Homo sapiens: one gene and its partners. The protein of the gene in region 1 interacts with the protein of each later gene in a pairwise test. Each region holds a gene or a part of one and is shown on either strand. Other genes may lie near its edges.

Region 1 (7,030 bases):
GAAAGTAAGTGCCCTGACCCTGAACTTACACATGAGCGTCTGACATAATATTTGACAATTTTTTATGCTGTTACTTGTGTAAAGATATTCACAGCAAAAAGTTTGATTTTGTTTAGGTTACCAGAGGTTAGGCTGGAAATAATTAAATATAACTGTACTCATTATAAAAATAGTTAACATCACCAGCAAACATTTGTTAATCTACTAGGTGCAATACCATATGCTCTTGATACTATGCCATCTTACATTTAATTAAGAGTTCTTTACAAATCATACTCTGTGTTTTTCACAGACATTAGAATGGCTTGCATATTTACACATTTAGTTTTTTCAACATCAAAATCAAATGCACAAGTTTCAAACATCACTTTGAGTTCTTGAGAGTATAGTGTGCCAACATTTTAAGTACTTTCTTCTTTTCTTTTCTTTTTGAGACGGGTCCTGTTCTGTCACTCAGGCTGGGGTGCAGTGGCACCATCTCGGCTCAGTAGAACTTCCATCTCCCGGGCTCAAGTGATCCTCTCACTTCAGCCTTCCGAGTAGCTGAGACTATAGGCATATAACACTACGCCTGGCTTTTTTGTTTTTTTCATCCTTTTTTTCATGTGTTAGGTACTTGTCACTATTCTCTTGACTTTTTTTTTTTCTTTTTGAGATGGAGTCTCGCTCTGTTGCCCAGGCTGGAATTCAGTGGTGTGATCTTAGCTCACTGCAACCTCTGTCTCCCGGGTTCAAGCGATTCTCCTGCCTCAGCCTCCCGAGTAGCTGGCACTACAGGCGCACGCCATCATGCCCGGCTAATTTTTGTAATTTTAGTAGAGATGGGGTTTCACCATATTGGCCAGGCTGGTCTTGAACTCCTGACCTCAGGTGATCCACCCGTCTCAGCCTCCCAAAGTGCTGGGGGATTACAGGCGTGAGCCACTGCACCCAGCTCTCTTGACTTATACACATTTAATCTATTCTATTAATTTGTGTTAATTAGATATTGGTCTTCAAATTTTAGTATTCATAAGAGTCACCTGGACAGCTTATTAAAAATACACTTGGGGACCAGGTGTGGTGGCTCACGCCTGTAATCCAAACACTTTGGGAGACTGAGGTGGGTGGATCCCCTGAGGTCAGGAGTTTGAGACCAGCCTGGCCAACGTGGTGAAACCCTGTCTCTACCAACAATACAAAAATTAGTTGGGCGTGGTGGTGCATGCCTGTAATCCCAGCTACTTGGGAGGCTGAGGCAGGAGACTTGCATGAACCCGGGAGGCGGAAGTTGCAATGAGCTGAGACTGTGCCACTGCACTACAGCCTGGGCAACAGAGCCAGACTGCATCTCAAAAAAAAAATGAAATAAAAATAAAAATACAGTTGGGGATAGGCATGGTGGCTCGTGCCTGTAATCCCAGCACTTTGGGAGGCCAAGGTGGGAGGACTGCTTGAGCTCAAGAGTTTTCATCAGCCTGGGCAACATAGGGAGACCCTCTCTCTACTAAAAATAAAAAAATTAGCTGAGTATGGTGGTGCCTGCCCCTAGTCCCAGCTACTCCAGAGGCTGAGATGGGAGGATCGTTTGAGCCCAGGAGGTCAAGGCTGCAGTGAGCTGTGATTGTGCCTCTGCACTCCAGCTTGGGTGACAGGGTGAGACCCTGTCTCAAAAAAACAAAAACCAAACCAAAACAAAACACCAGTTTACAGGGTCCCATCTCCAGTGATTGGGGCACAGACTAGAAATCTGATTATTTATTCATTAGAGTTGAGGTCTTGCTTTGTCGCCAAGGCTGGAGTGTAGTGGCTCAATCACAGCTCACTGCTGCCTCGAATTCCTGAGCTCAAGCAGTCCTCCCAAGTAGCTGTCCCCTAGGCTGGAGTGCACCTGGGGGTACAGTCATGAGATACCATGTCTGGCTGATTTTTAAATGTTTTGCAGAGACAGGGTCTCCCTATGTTGACCAGGCTGTTCTGGAACTCCTGGGCTCAAACAGTTCTTCCCCCTTGGCCTCCCAAAGTGCCGGGATTATAGGTGTGAGCCACTGTGCCCAGCCCTGATTTTTATTTTTTTTTAATTTTAATTTTGTCTTATTATTTATGTTTTTGGAGGCGACATCTCACTCTTGTCACCCAAGCTAGAGTGCAGTGGCGTGATTGTAGCTCATTGCAGCCTCAAACTCCTGGGCTCAAGTGATCTTCCTGCTGCAGCCTCCTGACTGGCTAGGACTACAGGGTCACACCACCACACCTGGCCAGTTTTTCTACTTTTTGTAGAGACTAGATCTTGCTGTGTTGCTCAGGCTGATCTCTAACTCCCGACCTTAAGAGATCCTCCCACCTTGGCCTCCCAAATTGCTGTAATTACACATGTCAGCCGCGGTTCCCAGGCCTATTTCTCCTTTTAATAAGACCTTGGATCTTAGTGTGCCACCCTCCAGCAATAATCTTTGCCAACTGGTTCTAAGAGTCAATCAGGCCAGGCATGGTGGTGCACACCTGTAATCCCAGCACTTTGGGAGGCTGAGGCAGGCAGATCACCTTGAGGTCAGGAGTTCAAGACCAGCCTGGCCAACATGGTAAAACCCTGTCTCTACTGAAAATACAAAAATTAGCTGGGCATGATGGTGCACACCTGTAATCTCAGCTACTCGGGAGGCTGAGGCAAGAGAATGACTTAAACCTGGGAGGCGGAGGTTGCAGTGAGCCAAGATCGAGCCACTGCACTCCAGCCTAGGGGACAAAAGCGAGACTGTCTCAAAAAAAAAAAATGTCAATCAGTCTGACGTTCTACATCTTTATTAGGGAAAATACTCTCTTTGACAAGCAATTTGTTTTATAAAATATCTTCTCTGACACATTTGTTTTACCCTAGTTTATTTTCTGTTGCATCTTATGATGGTTTCATCTTCAAATCTATTAATTTGTATTTTATAAAGAGTCATCTTAATTAGATTTATTTAATCCTTATTAGTGGTCCTTTTATTATTCTTTTTTTCTTATATTTTTATTGTGGCACAAACTTTATACTAAAAGGAAAAGGAGATTCATTGTGAATACATGATAAGTGAAGGAGCCAGTCACAAAAGACCACATACATATGATTCCATTTCTATGACATTTCTAGAATGGGCAGATCTGTAGAGAAAATAAATTAGTGGTTGACTAGAACTATGGAGGAGGAGGGAATGGAGAGGGACTACTAGTGGGAATGGAGTTTCTTTTCAGGGTGTTAAAAATGTTCTAAAATTGTTTGTGATGATGGTTATGATATCAAACTAGGTTCGTCCTGCCCACGTGCAGCAAGCCAATCACTATGATGATGGGTTTTGCAAAAGAGACAAGATTTTATTCATAGGGCTGCTGAATGAGGAGACAGGAGAGCAAATCCCAAATCTGGCACCCTGAAAATAGGGCTTGGCAGTATTTGTGGGGTAGGACGCAGGGTGGTCTAAAGCATGGGGAAAGGTGATTGGCAGGTAGGAAAGGTGAGGTAATCAAGGTTTCTGCACAAGCGTAATTGAGCTACATTGCTCTTCATAGGCCATGTGCAGAAAATGGCAGTGTTAACATGATCTAAGTGTGGAGTTTTTGTCCCTCTGACATGAAAAGGTCACTTTTTGGGCACTCATGCAGGTCCAGTTGAGGGATTGGTGGTCTCAACTGGGTAAGAGCTGTCCCCTAATTCCTGAAAAACAACTTTAAGCATCTGTTAATATAGTGACCCACAGTCAGAGATGTCATCTTTTTTTTCTTTCCTTTTTTTTTCTTTTGAGGCAGGGTCATGCTATGTTGCCCAGGCTGTTCACAGATGTTAACTTTTATTTATTTATTATTTATTATTATTATTATTTTTTGAGATGGAGTTTTCGATCTTGTTGCCCAGGCTGGAGTGCAATGGCATGGTCTCAGCTCACTGCAACTGCCTCCCAGCTTCAAGCGATTCTCCTGCCTCAGCCTCCCAAGTAGCTGGGATTACAGGCACATACCACCACACCCAGCTAATTTTTGTATTTTTAGTAGAGACGGGGTTTCACCATGTTAGCCAGGCTGGTCTCAAACTCCTGACCTCAGGTGATCCACCTGCCTTGGCCTCCCAAAGTGCTGGGATTACAGATGTGAGCCACCATGCCTGGCCAACTTCTTTGTTTGTTTGTTTGAGATGGGGTCTCACTCTGTTGCCCAGGCTGGAGTGCAGTGGCATGTTCATGGCTCACTGCAGCTTCGAACTCCCGGGGATCAAGCAGTCCTGCCTCAGCCTCCTGAGTAGCTGGGACTACAGGCATGTGCCACCATGCCCTACTCAGAGTTTTTCATAAATGCCGTTTTAGTGTTAAATAAGTTTCCTTCTATTCCTAGTTTGCTGAATATGTGTGTATGTGTGTGTTTATTGTGGTAAAATACACATAACATAAAATTCTATCATTTTAACCCTTTAAAAATGTCCAGATCAGTGTAATTAAGTACATTTACGTTGTTGTACAACTGTCACCATGATCTGTCTTCAGAACTTTTTCATCCCAAAGTGAAATGCTGTACCTATTAAACACTAACTTCCCATCTCCCCCCACTCCAGCCTCTGGCAACCACCATTCTACTTTCTGTGTCTATGAATTTGACTACTCTAAAAACCTCATATACGTGGGATCATATATTTGTCCTTTTGTGACTGACTTATTCACTTAGCATAATGTCTTTGAACTTTTGCTGAGTGTTTTTTTTTTTAATCTTAAAAGGGTATTGAATTTTTTCAAATATCTTTTCTGTGTCTGTTGAGATGATAATGTGGTGTATCACATTGATTGATTTCCTTATGTTGAACCACTCTTGCATTCCTGGGATAAATGTTGGTCATGGTATATAATCTTTTTAATGTACTGTTGGATCCAGTTTGCAGTTTGCTGTTATTTTCTTGAGGATTTTTATTTCTATATTCATATGGGATATTGGTTTATAGTTTTCTTATCATGTCTTTTTTTTAAGAGACCAAGTCTCCCTATGTTGCCCAGGCTGGTCTTGAACTCCTGGACTCAAGGGATCTTCCTGCCTCAGCCTCCCAAAGTGCTAGGATTACAGGTGTGAGCCACCATGCCCAGCCTGAATTTTATCGTATCTTTTTCTGGCTTTGGTGTCAGGGTGATGTTGGCCTCATAGAACGTTAGGAAGTGTTCCATTCTTTTCTGTTTTTTGAAGGAGTTCGAGTAGGATTGGTGTTAATTCTTTGAATATTTGGTAGAATTTGCCAATGCAGCCATGTGATACTGGACTTTTCTTTGTTGGGAGGTTTTTGTTTATCAATTCAATCTCTTATTATAGGTTTGTTGAGACTTTTAATTTTTTCTGAGTCAGTTTTGGTACTTTAATGTTTCTAAAAATTTGTCTCTTTTATCTAAATTATCTAATATGCTGGTTTAGTCATTCACAGTATTCTCTTATAATCCTTTCATTTATATAAAATTAGTAGTAATATCCCCAGCTTCATTTCTGATTTTATTTATTTTCATTTCATCTTCTTTCTTTTTCTCCCAGTCAGTCTGACAAGAGTTTGTTAATTACTTTTTTTTTTTTTTTTTCGAGATGGAGTCTTGCTGTGTCACCCAGGCTGGAGTGCAGTGGCATGATCTCAGCTCACTGCAACCTCCACCTCCCAGGTTCAAGCAATTCTCCTGCCTCAGCCTCTCCAGTAGCTGGGATTACAGGTGCCTGCCACCGTGCCCAGCTAATTTTTGTATTTTTAGTAGAGACAGGGTTTTACCATGTTGACCAGGCTGGTCTTGAACTCCTGACCTTGTGATCTGCCCGCCTCGGCCTCCCAAAGTGCTGGGATTACAGGCGTGAGCCACCATACCCGGCCAAGAGTTTGTAAATTCTGTTGATCTTTTTAAATAACAAATTTTTGGTTTCGTTGATTCTACTATTTTTATTCTTCTTGGTTTTTGTGGTTGTTGTTGTTTGTTTGTTTTTGAGAAATGGGGCCGTGCTCTGTTACCCAGGCTGGAATGATGCAGTGGTGTGATCATATGCACTGCAACCTCAAACTGCTGGGCTCAAGTGATCCTCCTACCTCAGCCTCCTGAGTAACTGAGACTACAGGCATGCATCACCAAACCCAGCTAATTTTTTTTTTAATTTCATAGAGATGGGGTCTCACTGTCTTGCCCAGGCCTTGAACTCCTGGCCTCAAGCGATCCTCCTGCCTCAGCCTCCCAAAGCGCTGGGATTACAGGTGTGAGGTACTGCACCTGCCTTATTTTTATTCTTTATTTCACTTATCTCTGCTCTAAACATTGTTATTCCCTCCCTTTGGTTGGGTCCAGTTTGTGCTTCTTTTTCTAGTTCCTTAAGGTCTGAAGTTAGAGTATTGACTTAAGGTCTTTCTTTTTTTTATCTCTGTTTTTATTTTTATTTTTTGTAGAGATGGGGGTTTCACTATGGTGCCCAGGCTTGTCTTGAGCTCATGGGCTCAAGCGATTCTCCCACCTCAGCTTCCCAAAGTGTTGGGATTAAAGGCATGAGCCACCATACCCTGCCTTCTTTCTAATATTTTATTATTGTTATTATTATTTATTTATTTATTTTTTGAGACAGAGTCTCGCTCTGTTGCCTGGGCTGGAGTACAGTGGCGTGATCTTGGCTCACTGCAACCTCTGCCTCCCAAGTTCAAGCGATTCTCCTGCCTCAGCCTCCCAAGTAGCTGGGATTACAGACATACACCACCACACCCAGCTAATTTTTGTATTTTTAGTAGAGACAGGGTTTTGCCACATTGGTCAGGCTGGTCTTGAACTCCCAACTTCAGGTGATCTGTCCGCCTTGGCCTCCCAAAGTGCTGGGATTATAGGCGTGAGCCACCGCGCCCGGCCTTATTACTATTATTTTTTAAGACAGGGTCTTGCTCTGTTGCCCAGGCTGGGGTGCAGTGGCACCATCACAGCTTTCACTTTCCAGATTCAGGCAATCCTCCCACCTCAGTCTCCCAAGTAGCTGGGACCATAGGCTCGTGCCACCATGCCTAGCTAATTTTTGTATTTTTTGAAGAGACAGGGTT
Region 2 (6,906 bases), on another chromosome or scaffold:
GCTCTATCAAACCAAGCTCTGCTTCCAGTCCTCTGCCAGCCCAGCCTGCTCCTGACTCCCAGCACACAGTGTCCTCTCTAAAGCTGTTCCTTAATTGTCCCCAAACAGAGCCTGCTGACTCCTCTCAGAGGCAATTTCCCTGCCAGTCTGCCTCTCTCCTCCTCCGGGAAGCCTTCCCTGGCCGCCCATCCCTGTGTACACGGTCACCATTTAGTTGTTCCTAATGGTTTCCTGAGTCTTGTCACTTTTGCTCATGTCCCCTGATAGCCTGGTCTAAGGTAGGGCCTGCAGAAGATGCTGATGACTAGATAGGAGCTCTGGGTGCCTGGCTCCAACATTCTCCCTGGTCACAGCCACTGCTGTCCTTGCTGTGAGTTTAGGAGCTGACTCAGGCCAGTCCTGTCTGGAGGGCAGTTAACACAGCCTTTCTGGGCTCCTCTTTTCAGTTCCCATCTCTGTCGTCCCTGCCTGGGTGGAACAAGGTAGCCAGAGGCTGCAGCAGCTCAGACACCAGGCAGGTTCAATGTCAAATGCACTTTACTGGGCCCCTGGGCCTCCCAACACTGTCCTCACCAAGGCTGGGGCACCCCATTCCCAGCACCACCAGCTGCCCAGGAAGCAGGACGGATAGAGGGAACACATGTGGAATGGCTGTTCTCCTACCCCAGAGGGTGCCGGATGATGTTGACAGCACGGCTGCTTCCCTCTCCCCTGCAGCTTCTGTCCCCACCCAGCAGCTTGGCCTTTCCCATAGCAGGGAAGGGGGATACCTGGGGCTTCAAACCAGCCACCTGCTCCTGCTTAAAATGGGGCAAGGGGCCATTTGCAAAATTCTTCGAGGGGCAGTGGTGAGGTAGAAGGGGTGGCAGCCTGCTCCTGTCTGGGAGAGGGCTGGGCAGACACTGGGAGCCGGGCAGACACTGGGAGCCGGGCTGGCTCTTGCTTCAGGCCCAGAGCCCTGGGCCCTGCTCGCTGAGGAAGCTGGTGGTTGGAGCGGCGAGGTTCAGCCAGCTGAGGCTGGAGGGAGTACTGGGTGGCCAGGAGGGGTAGCCAGTCCAACTCGGCTCTCCTCAGCACCCCCAGCCATGGGTCACCAGTCCCGCTCAGCAGGTTCTCGGTAGGGGAGGCCTAAGAGCCTGAAGACATCCTTCTCAGTGGGAGTGGGCAGCACTCGGCCAGGCCCCACCTTGCAGCCATGGGTGTTCCGGACCACAGCAGTGCTGAGGGCATGTTCTGACAGACTCATGCCCTTGGTTTTGGCCAGGGCTCGCATGGAGCGGTTGAAGTGTGCAGAGCCGGTGAAGTAGAGCAGGGCACAGGCAAACTCGCTATAGGGCACCACGATGATGTCCAGGCGCCGGTGCCGCCGCCCTGGCCCTGGGAGCCGGCACACCCCCAAGTACTTCTGTTGCTGACCATTCTCCTCTTGGCTCACCAAGTCATCTGTGAGGAACCCTGGCCCAACAGAGGGGACTGCTGGGAGGGCAGGGAACCAGGCCTGGGCTGTCCCATCCTCCCAGGTCTCTCCTGATGTCTAAGCTGGGGCTTGCCCAGGTATTAGCTGGGTGACACTACCCTCTCTGGGCCCTTCTCCTTTTCTGTAAAACATGGATAGTAATTCCCATCTCCCCCATAGTGTCACAGAAAGATCAGATGAGATACTTGGCCTGCAGGGTTCACTGAGCACCTCCACATAGGTGTGGCGGGGCTGTTCCATCTCTCCCTGGAGAGGATTCCGGCCCCGATAGAGAGATGGGATGCTGGCAAAGCACTGTTCCCCTGCTTCCTGCCTCAGGACTGGAACTTCTGAGGTTCTCCCTCTGAGGGGGCCCCCAGACCTGTGCTGCCCTCTGTCAACCTGCTCACCCAGAGATGGAGCTTATACCTTCCTGCCGAAGACTGTCAAGGAGGCGGCTGAAGATACCCCGGTGGGACCGGCCATCTGGGTGAGTGATGAGCACGTCGACATCACCACAGGTCGCCTTTCCCCGTCGGTATGAACCACATGCCACACACAGCAGCCCAGAGTTAAAGGCCTGGGCTGCTTTCTGGACCTGGGAAAGAGAGCGGTGACAGGTGAGGGGCTGTGCGTGGGGAGCTCCTCTCCCACAGCAGTACAAGGGCCTTCCCAGACTCGGGCCCACACCCTCAGCTTATGCCCATTCCAGATGCCTGCTGCAAGCCCAGGGGAATCCACCCTGAGGAGCTGCTGTTCTTTCCCTTCGCTAGGACAGGAGAGAAGAAAAAGCTCACTGTGCAGGAGGCAAGCCTGAGGAGAGACGGGAGAAGGTGCCGGCTCTGCTTCTGAGAGTGGGCACTGAGCTTGCCCTGTGGAGCTCTTTAAGAGTAGGGAGACACAGACTCTCTCTGCCCCTGCCCCAGCCCACGTGCCCAGGTCTGTGAAACTCCACTTAGGACAAGGGGCCAGGTGCTGAAAGCCCTCAGCCAGGTCTAGGCAGCCCCAGATATCTACTGATTTGGAGCTAAAGGTTTGGAATATGTGAGCTGGGGTTTGAGGACTGAGCAGGTGGCTGGCAGCATGCGCCAGGCCCAGGCCCAGGAGAAAGTGGAGCACAGAAATACAGCTGCACCTGTGGGAAAGGAGAGGAAAGAAAGCAAAGAGGGGGCAGTTCTGAGCCAACACCCACATCCTTTCTTGGTGGGGAGGGAGCTGAGACAGCAACTGCCAGCTGAAGGATTGTCCCTCTGAGGAAAAATAAACCCATTAGCCTCCACCCCTGAGACACTGAGGTTCTTTCATATGCAGATGGCCTCCTGCCTCCACCCCAGGACACTGAAAATTCTGGGGCCCCGGACACCTCAAGTATCCTGACAGGAGGGCTCCGCTAATCCCCTTACTCCCTTCTTGAGCCTCCCAAGAGAATGGAAGGAGGAGGTCCACGTGAGTAATCCCATCAAAACTCCTATGGCTGGAGCCCTTAAATGGGGGCACAGGAGGCCAGGTGGGAAGCCTCTTTTGTTCCAATGGGCTGGGTACTGACTGAGGCATTCTCCATGCCCGGACACCATGGCTGAGTGACGGTGTCATCACTAGCACCAAGGCCTGGTGATGGGCAGACAAAGAGGCCTGTCCATCCATCTCATACCGGCCTCATAGCCTTGTGGCCTGGAATGGAGCTGGGGGCTGATTTCAATCAAACTAGGCCAGTCTCCATGGGATCCCACTCTATCAGAATCCCTGACCAAAGTGAGCAAAACTTGCCTATTACAAGCAGCTCCTAATCCTAATGCCCATTGAACAAATGATACATCTAGCCCTAAATGCAGTCCAGTGTCTCTCTAATCTAGCTTTTACATGAACCTAATCGCTAACCCAACTCTAAACCAAACCCAAATCTTATTTCTTGGACAACTACAAATCTTAACTTAAAAGCAACCAACATTAAGAAAATCCTACGCCTAATTAAAGCCTAACTTTAACTCAATCTTTTTTTTTTTTTCAGACAGAGTCTTGCTCTGTTGCCCAGGCTAGAGTGCAGTGGCACAATCTTGGCTCGCTGCAACCTCCGCCTCCCAGGTTCAAGCAAATCTCCCACCTCAGCCTCCCAAGAAACTGGGATTATAGGCATGAGCCACGGCACCCGCCTAACTTTTTTGTATTTTTAGTAGAGACGGGGTTTCGCCATGTTTGCCAGGCTGGAAATTTTTGTATGTTTTATAGAGACAGGGTTTCACCACGTTGGCCAGGCTGGTCTCGAGCTCCTGAGCTCAGATGATCTGTCCACCCTGTTCTCCCAATGTGCTGGGATTAAAGGCATAAGCCACTGTGCCTGGTCTTAACTCCATCTTGATGGAGCTTTCTTCCAGCCCCAAACCAAATCCTACTGACACTGTGCTTTTACACCAACTCTACCCCAAATCCTGAGCCAGCCTTGCGTGGGCTTTAGAAGGTCCATACATCTGGAAAAAGACATAAACCTTTGCACATTTGTGCATTTTGGGGAGAAAACAGTCCACAGTTTTCATCAGGTTCTCAAAGAAGTTGGTGAAATAAAAAAAAAAGATAAAATAAAATATTAAAACCCTCTGCCCTGACCCACCCTAACCTCAGTACAGATATAATTCACCTGTAATCTAACCCTAACATTAACCCAATCCTAACACCAATCAGTCTAGAATTGAATCCAATCCTAATAGGCCTGACTACTGAGAACCAGAATCTAGAGGGCTGGTGTTACAGCTCTTTCCTCCCAAAGCTCCCCACCCCCACCTCTGGGCCTGGAGCTTCAGTCTTAACTTGCTCTGTGCTCAACCTCTGGTGATCCACAGTTTCCTCTGCCTGCTGTCCTCCCCAGCTGAGGAGTTGGGGGTTCTTGGCTTTGACCCAAGACCTTACAGCAGGACCTGGCTGTCCTCACTGCTCTGGGACACCTGCTTACTGTCTGCTCAATCTCTGTAGCCTCCTCCCTGGGCATACGTTCCAGGAAGTCACTGTAATGCTTCAGGCCGATGGCCTGCTGGGTTGTCAGGGAGGCCTGGCTGCGGATGTCTTCCAGACTTCGGAAGCCCTGGAAAAAAGCAGCCAGATGGGAAGCTGTAAGGATCCAGGACCAATGAAGAGGCATGAGTGAGCACACACACAAGGCTTCCATCGCCCCAGACTCTAGGGAAGGCTAGAGGCAGGACCAACCTAGGGGCAGTTGGGTCTGTACTCAGCAGGACTTGGGAAAGGCAGGGAGCATGGGAAACATGCCATCATCCAGCCCTGCCACTATCCTAAGATGCTCGTTCATGATTCCATCAGTCTGAGGATGGACCTTGTCATCTTCATCCTTACCAAGCTGCCCTGGTGATTGTGGGCAGAGCCAGGATTGGGAACCACTGCTCTAGACACGCAGTGTCAAGGCCTGGCCTCCTCAGGAAGGCCCTTGCTGGTCTGGGGAGACTGAGAAACATACTTCTTGTCCCTGTCTACTCCTTCTTAAGGATACCAAGCAACAAGGCTGTTCTGGGAGCTGAGGGGTCTATATGAGTCCTGGTCCGCTTGAAAAATGGTCTCCCTATACTGTGGGTGCATTCCCATCAGAGCACAGCATAGGGATCTGGGGCAGAGCACAGCACACATCTGGGGCAGGAACTCTGAGACACAGCAAAACTGAAGTAGGGGCTGAGCCAGGGTGTGACCTGTTGGTACCACATCTGGGCAGTCTTGGTCCCAGCTCCCCAGATGTTGGAGAAGAGCTCCAAGACAGGCACGCTCTCACTGATATGGTCCAGCTTCCGCAAATGCCCGCTCTCCAGGATCTCTATGATTTTCTCAGCCATCCGCTTCCCAATCCCAGGGATACTGCAGGCCTCCTAGAGGAGGAGGAGGCAGAGGCAAGAAAGAAGAGTGAGGAGATGGAAGAGGTAGAGCCAGTGGAAAGGAAGCTGACTCCTCTAGCAGATGCTGACATAAAAGCCAGCCTGGCTGCTTGGCAACTGTGTGGCTGTGTAAAGCTTGGGTGTAGTTGAAGATGAGAATTTTGGATAGAATGAGGGCTGGGTAATTTGTCTTTTGGTTCCCAGAAGGATGGAGACCAGCAGTAAGAAGTAGAAAATAATGATGATATTAGTCACCACCACCACCACCACCATCATCATCATTCCAACAGCAAGAGCTAACATTTACTGAGGGCTTACTCTATGTCAGGTCCTGTGCTACAGGGACCATTTCATTTAATAGTAGCCCCTTTTTACTAATGAGAAAACTGATGCTTTGAGAGTTTAAGTAACTTGTCTGGAGTCACACAGTTAGTGAATGACAGGAACCAGAGTTCAAACCCTGGTCTGTTAGGCTTCAGAGTCCAAACTTCTTTTAAACAACTTTTTAGGCGGGACACAAGGGCTCATGGCTGTAATCCCAGCACTTTGCAGGGCTGAGCCGAGGGTAGATTGCTTGAGCCCAGGAGTTCAAGACCAGCCTGGGTAACACGGCAAAACACCATCTCTGCTAAATAAATGAATAAATAAATAAATAAACAAAATTAAAAATAAAAAACTTTTAATTATGTTAAAAAATTCAAAAGTAGAGAGATCCATATAACCCCCAAGTATCGTACATCTCCCAGCTTCAACAACTATCAAGATTTTGCCAATCTGCTTTCATCAATTTTCCTTTTTTTTCTTTTGTGCAAGTCCTAGACCCCATAAAATCTTCACCACTGTACCTGAACCCCACTGGGGTTACTAACCACTGGCCAGTAAAGACCCCTCCTCCCACTCTAGCCCCTGGGTACCTGGTACGAGGTGACAGGCTTATGGAAGCTCTTGAGGGCATTGATGGCCTTGGCATAGCCCAGGGCCCTCCACTTGTCTCCCTGAACACTGTAGGCTTTGGCCAGAACTTCCAGCTTCTCTGTGATATGGAGGTTGTGATTGGTCGCCTTCTGGCTTGAGGGCTGTGCACAGACCCACTTATCCAGGACAGCAGGGGCTGGGCTAGGCTCACAATCTCCCTCAAGGGAGGTGGGGTAGTGGCCACTGATGAGGGCTTCCAGATCAGCTGCACTAACCTGGGTTTCTTCCCCATCACTGGCTTCATCATCAGAGATGGGCTTGGGATAGAGAAGAAAAGAAAACAATAAATTCTTGTTCTCCAAGAGAAGGGATCCTTAAAGGTGGGGGTCATCTTCTTTGTGCGGGGGGAGGGTCTTCTAGTCAGACCTAAGAATGAGGCGGGGCCTTCTGCATCAGACTTGGATCTCCTTGGGTGTGAGGCCACGTTCCCTTTGGCTCCACGCAGTGCCTAGCCCTAGGATCCCCAGTGGTATGTGTTAGATATGGCCTAGATAAATGCAGCAGTGATGAGTGTTGGGAAGAGCTAAATGGCTTCACAATAGAGCCCTCCTCTCTCAGGGGCCTGGGACTTTCTGAACAGCCACCAGGCCCACCCCATTTCTGTGA
Region 3 (5,587 bases), on another chromosome or scaffold:
GACTCGATCTCAAAAAAAAAAGAATGTGAAATTAGGGCCAGGCACAGTGGCTCATGCTTGTAATTCCAGCACTTTGGAAGGCCAAGGTGAGAGGATCGCCTCAGTAACATAATGAGATCCAATGTCTAAACAACGATAACAGGCCGGGCGTGGTGGCTCACACCTGTAATCCCAGCACTTTGGGAGGCAGGAGGGGGATCACTTGAGGTCAGGAGTTCGAGACCAGCCTGGCCAACATGGCAAAACCCTGTCTCTATTAAAAATACAAAAAAAATTAGCCAGGCGTGGTGGCATGTGCCTGTAGTCCCAGCTATTTGGGAGGCTGAGGCAGGAGAATTGTTTGAACCCGGGAGGCAGAGGTTGCAGTGAGCTGAGATCATACCACTGCACTCCAGCCTGGGTGACAGAGTGAGACTCCGTCTCAAAAATAAAATAAAAACTAAACAACAGGCCGGGCGTGGTGGCTCCTGCCTGTAATCCCAACACTTTGGGAGGCAGAGGCAGGTGGATCACGAGGTTAACAGATAGAGACCATCCTGGCTAACACGGTGATACCCCGTCTCTACCAAAAATACAAAATATTAGCCGGGCGTGGTGGTGGGCGCCTGTTGTCCCAGCTACTTGGGAGGCTGAGGCAGGAAAATGGTGTGAACCCAGAAGGCGGAGCTTGCAGTGAGCTGAGATTGCGCCACTGCACTCCAGCCTGGGAGACAGAGTGAGACTCCATCCCCCGCCAAAAAAAAAAAAAAAAAAAACAACTAAACAACAACAACAACAAAAAAGAATGTGCAATTAGATAGAACTTCCTTAGAACCTAAAACAGGGAAACAGGGAAGGGCATTCTAGAATCAATGGCACGAATTAGGAAGCCTAGAGCACATACTTGGAACACACACATCTTAGAAGTTAGATTGCTCCTGGGAAGAGAATGGAATCTAGAACAACGTGGCTGAAACCTGGAACACACTTGAAATGAACATTTAGCAAAGAAGGAAGGACTTGTTGTTAGAACTTTGGAACATGTCTGAGGATATGGTGGGATCAGAATCTGGCTCAGGGGTCTTATCTAAATATATGAAAAAAACAAAGGCTGTGCACAGTGGCTCACGCCTATAATCCCAGCACTTTGGGAGGCCGAGGCAGGTGATCACCTGAGGTCGGGAACTCGAGACTAGTCTGACCAACATGGAGAAACCCCCATCTCTACTAAAAATACAAAAAATTAGCCGGGCATGGTGGTAGGCGCCTGTAATCCCAGCTACTCAGGAGGCTGAGGCAGGAGAATCGCTTGAACGCGGGAGGCAGAGGTTGTGGTGAGCCAAGATCGCAGCATTGCACTCCAGCCTGAGCAACAAGAGTGAAACTCCGTCTCAAAAAAAAAAAAAAAAAAATTGGCATCTGGCCTAGAACTCAGACCATGCCTGGAATGAAAATGGAACACAGAACAGACATCAGCTGGGAGTGTTCTGGTGTTTAGAAGGAATCTAGAACATGGAGCAATGCAAGAGCACATGTGCGACAAGAAATGTGGCCCGGCCAGGCGCGATGGCCATGCCTGTAATCCCAGCACTTTTGGGAGCCAACAGAGAAGGATCCCTTGAGCCTAGGAGTTTCAGACCAGTCTGGGCAACATGGCGAAACCCCCATCTCTACAAAAAATAAATAAATAAATAAATAAATAAAATTTTTTTTTGAGACAGAGTTTCGCTCTTGTCGTTCAGGCTGGAGTGCAGTGGCACGATCTCAGCTCAATGCAACCTCCGCCTCCGGGGTTCAAACGACTCTCCTGCCTCAGCCTCCTGAGTAGCTGGGATTACAGGCATGTGCCACCACGCCTGGCTAATTTTGTATTTTTAGTAGAGACAGGGTTTCTCCATGTTGGCCAGGCTGGTCTCAAAATCCTGACCTCAGGTGATCCGCCCGCTTCAGCCTCCCAAAGTGCTGGGATTACCGGCATGAGCCACCGCGCCTGGCCAAAAAAATTTTTTTTTAATTAGCCAGGCCTGGTGGTGAGTGCTTGTGGTCCCAGCTACTCAGGCGGCTAAGGTGGGAAGATGACCTGAGCCTAGGAGGTGGAGGCTGCAGTGAGCTGTGATTGTGCCAGTGCACTCCAGCCTGGGCAACAGAGACCTTGTCTCAAAATAAATAAATAAATAAATAGAAAGAAAGAAATTTGTATGGCAGCAGGTAGCTTCTAGATCTCCTTATGAGCCCAGGCCACAGAATACATCTGGAGGAGGTGATGTGTGTTCGGCTCATTGGCCTGGGAGAGTGTACTTGGAGAAGGGGAACTCATCTGAGCCTCAGGGGGCAATGGAGTGCTAGAAACATCTCAACAAGCTGCATCTTAGGGGAAAGAGTAGAGAGTCCTGAAGCCCGCCACCTGGGGTGACATGAGGATGAGACAGGGGTTTGGTAGGGCCACAGGAGATGTGAAGTTGATGGGGCAGAGTGATGAGGCTGTGAAGACCTGGTTCCTAAAAGTGAGACCTGAGAAACTAGATACCTGCTGGGGAGGGCAGTGGACAGAGCTGGGAGCCTGGACTCCTGAATCCTTGTGGAGGTAAATGATGGGGGATTGGAAGGTGAGAGCCTGAGGTCTTGTTTGGAGAGAGGGTTGAGGCAGACAGCCTCAGTAAAAGCTGGTGGGCAGTACGGAAGCTGGGGTCTGAACTCCTGGGTCCCTGAGGGGATAGGAGACTGGGACCAAGACATTTAGGTCCCCAAGTGGGAGTGTGAACAGAAGTCAGAGAACTGCATTGAGAATCACATTCCGGGTCCCCCAAAGGAAAGGAGTCATGGCGCCTGAGTCCCTCGGGGAGCAGATGCTGGGTGCCAGGAGGCTAAGTCTGTGTGTCTGCAGGGCACAGCGGGGTTCTAAGCAGAGCAAACGCTGGGGAACAGGATTCCTAGGTGCTGACGGGGTGAGGGCTACCACCTGGGGCCAGCAGAGGTGTAGACACGGACAGGCTTCCCGAACGGGGTGGGAGCTGCATCCCCGGGTGCCATGGTCCCCACGGCGACCAGAATAGGAAAATTCAGAAGCCCTGGATCCTCAGGGAGCAGCTGGAGTCCCAGGAACCTGGGGTGCCGAGGACGGGGCCACGAGCCTGGCCGGCAGAACCCAGAGGCTGGGGCGCCCTGGTCGGGGAGGGCCCGGGTATTCCCGGGTCAAAGGCGCGGCGGGGGGATCCCCGCGCCGCCTGCGCCCCCTCCCTGGTGGCGGCGGCAGGAGGTGGGGGGAGGCGAGGCTGCCGAGCGCGCTGACCATGGACAGCTCCAGAGCGGGCCTGTGTCCAGGGCGGCCGCCGAGCCTGCCTGGACCGTGGGACGCAGCCGGCTGTGCAAGCCCGAGGCTGGCGACGGGAGACGGAGTGCGCGAAGCGGGGACGATGCGGACGCGTCTGGGGAGTCTGGCACCGCCGCGGCGGGTGTCTGGAGCTCCCAGGACAGGGTCAGGAAGGGGGATCTAGGCTCTAGGAGGGGTCCCGGGGCCGGACCGGGAAATCCAAGCTCCTGGGCCCTGGAGGAGGCGCGAGGCGGCGGTGCGCCCGGGATTCTAGGGTTCGGTCGGGGACTCTGGGCGCCGGGAGGGGCACGCCTGAGTCCCCGGGGTTGGGGTGTGAAATCTGGGCTCGGGGGTCCCCTGGGATGAGGAAGGGAATCCGGGATCTCGGGGAGGCGGGGGAGGCTCGCCAAGGGGTCCCCAGGGTGGGCGCTGCCAGGAGGGCCGGGCCGGGCTCTTACCTGCCTGGTCCGCGGCGGCTGCGGGCGGAGCTGGGCTGCAGGAGGGACGTGGGGTGGAGTGGGGGGGCCGGGCGGGGCCCCTGGCAGCGGCCGGGGCCCGGCTCTGTCGCTTCGGAGCCCTGGAGCCCTGTCTCCGACGCTCGCGCGGGCTCCGCGTCTCTGGCTCCGGCTTGGGCGCTGGGGACCCCCCTCCCCCTCACGCTCTCACTGCCTTCTACCCCCAAAATAGCCCCCTGCCCCTGTCACCGATCAGCCTCCCCCCGCGAGGCCGCAGCCGCCAGATCCAGGGGTGCCCACCAGCGCCCCCCAAATCCCACCTTCCCCCCAAAAAAATTCCTCCTCCCTCCCCCTCCCCCCCCACGGCTCCCGGGCGGTCGTGGCCCCTTTAACAGGAGACTGACAGACGGCGAAGAGCGGCCAATGGGAGAGAGCGTCGGCGCCGGCCGGCGACTAGACCCCGCCTCCACACCGGCCGGGAGGGGTCGCGCGGGCGGAGAGCGAGAGGCGGGGCATAAGGCGCGTCGACCAATAGGCACGCGGCGTGAGGCGGCTGGGGCGGGAGGCGGAGCCCGGCAGGGGGATGATGTCACCTGGAGCGAGTAGCGCGCGGCGTGGAACGCGAGTCGCGACCCCGGCTCCCGGCAGTGGCGCGCACTAGCCCTCGCGCCGCACGGGACACGAGGGCTGGGCGGGCAGCGGGATGAGGCTAAAGGTTGGATTTCAAGGCGGGGGCTGCTTCCGGAAAGACGCGCTGTGTTTGGAAGGTGGAGTGAGCGCCCGGTGGGCGAGGGCACCTCATTCTGCACCCCTGCGCCCGCCTCGGGAACTGCACGCGGCACCCCCACCCGCGACTCCCACGCAGACAGTAGTGCGGCCTGCAGGGTTCCCCCGGCGGACGAGGCTAATGGTTCGCTCCGCCCCGCCCACACAGAGGCCGCCCACTGGCTCCGGCTGCGTTTCAGGACTCTGGAGGAAGGGACTTGGCCTTCGCCCTCAGACGCTCTTAAGGGTAGGCAGCGTTGTCCTCAGTTCTGCCCCAGCACTCAGACCCAGACTGGGTCCCTGCCTCCGCCCTCCGCCCTCGGACTAGTCTCTTGGAAGCCGGCCTGTCTCCGCCTTCAGACCTAGGGAGAGGTCTTAACCTCTGTTCTCAGACTCTGGAAAAGGCTTCTCAACGGCTTGGCCTGACCTCAGCTCCTCGCATTCCCTCCACATCTCAAGACACCAACCCAGGGATGCAGGACAGACACACAGACACTCAGTGAGGGTCAAATATCTTTAAATAAAGTGCCAGGAACAATAAATACTGTACAGGAAGAGAGTGCACGTGAACGTCCAGATCTGTGGTTTCAACCTCGAGACTCCAAGGACCTGCAAGGGGGGTGGACAAGGGACCCGGGATCAGGGAGGCTCCGGGTAGACAAGAGGGGCAGGACTGGGGTTGCAGAGGCAAGGGCCCAGGTAAGTGGGCTGAGGGATCCCAGCCACAGTAGGTTCCGTATCTTGGGATGGAAGGAAGCTAAGGGCTCCCCAGGGGATTTGGCCAAACTAGCCTGGGGTGAGAGCCTGGGCCAAGGGTCAAGGGTCAGGATCCCAGAGGAGGGGCCAGGGCTGGAAGATCCAGGAAGCACTGGCCTGGTTTGGGAGCCTGGGGTTAAAGGGAGCCCGTGGAGGCCCCAGGGGTGTGGTGACCCAGGGGCTCACGAGTAGCTCTGATGCTGTTGGCGCCGGCGGGCAGAGCGCATCTTCTCGAACCGGGCCTCCATCTCCTCCAGCACTCGCGGTGTGTAACGGACAACCAGCTTCACCGAGCCCTGGGCCGCCTTCAGCAGCTCCACCG

What was found.
Region 2: the proteins of TFCP2 (region 1) and POLL interact in binary tests that used the Homo sapiens proteins (3 or more experiments, as listed by UniProt).
Region 3: the proteins of TFCP2 (region 1) and C19orf73 interact in binary tests that used the Homo sapiens proteins (3 or more experiments, as listed by UniProt).

What each region holds. Positions count from the first base shown.
Region 1 is NC_000012.12:51,163,123-51,170,152, reverse strand, and holds part of TFCP2 (alpha-globin transcription factor CP2), read left to right. Parts: intron 1-7,030.
Region 2 is NC_000010.11:101,578,363-101,585,268, forward strand, and holds the end of POLL (DNA polymerase lambda), read right to left. Parts: intron 6,558-6,906; coding exon 6,240-6,557; coding exon of another isoform or gene 6,074-6,239; exon of another isoform or gene 5,988-6,073; intron 5,320-5,987; coding exon 5,146-5,319; intron 4,530-5,145; coding exon 4,401-4,529; intron 2,055-4,400; coding exon 1,886-2,054; intron 1,477-1,885; coding exon of another isoform or gene 1,456-1,476; coding exon 1,091-1,455; 3' UTR 520-1,090; downstream 1-519.
Region 3 is NC_000019.10:49,117,883-49,123,469, reverse strand, and holds C19orf73 (putative uncharacterized protein C19orf73), read left to right. Parts: upstream 1-4,326; 5' UTR 4,327-4,447; coding exon 4,448-4,837; 3' UTR 4,838-5,068; downstream 5,069-5,587. Other genes in the region: LIN7B (protein lin-7 homolog B), read right to left, coding at 5,097-5,118, 5,452-5,587.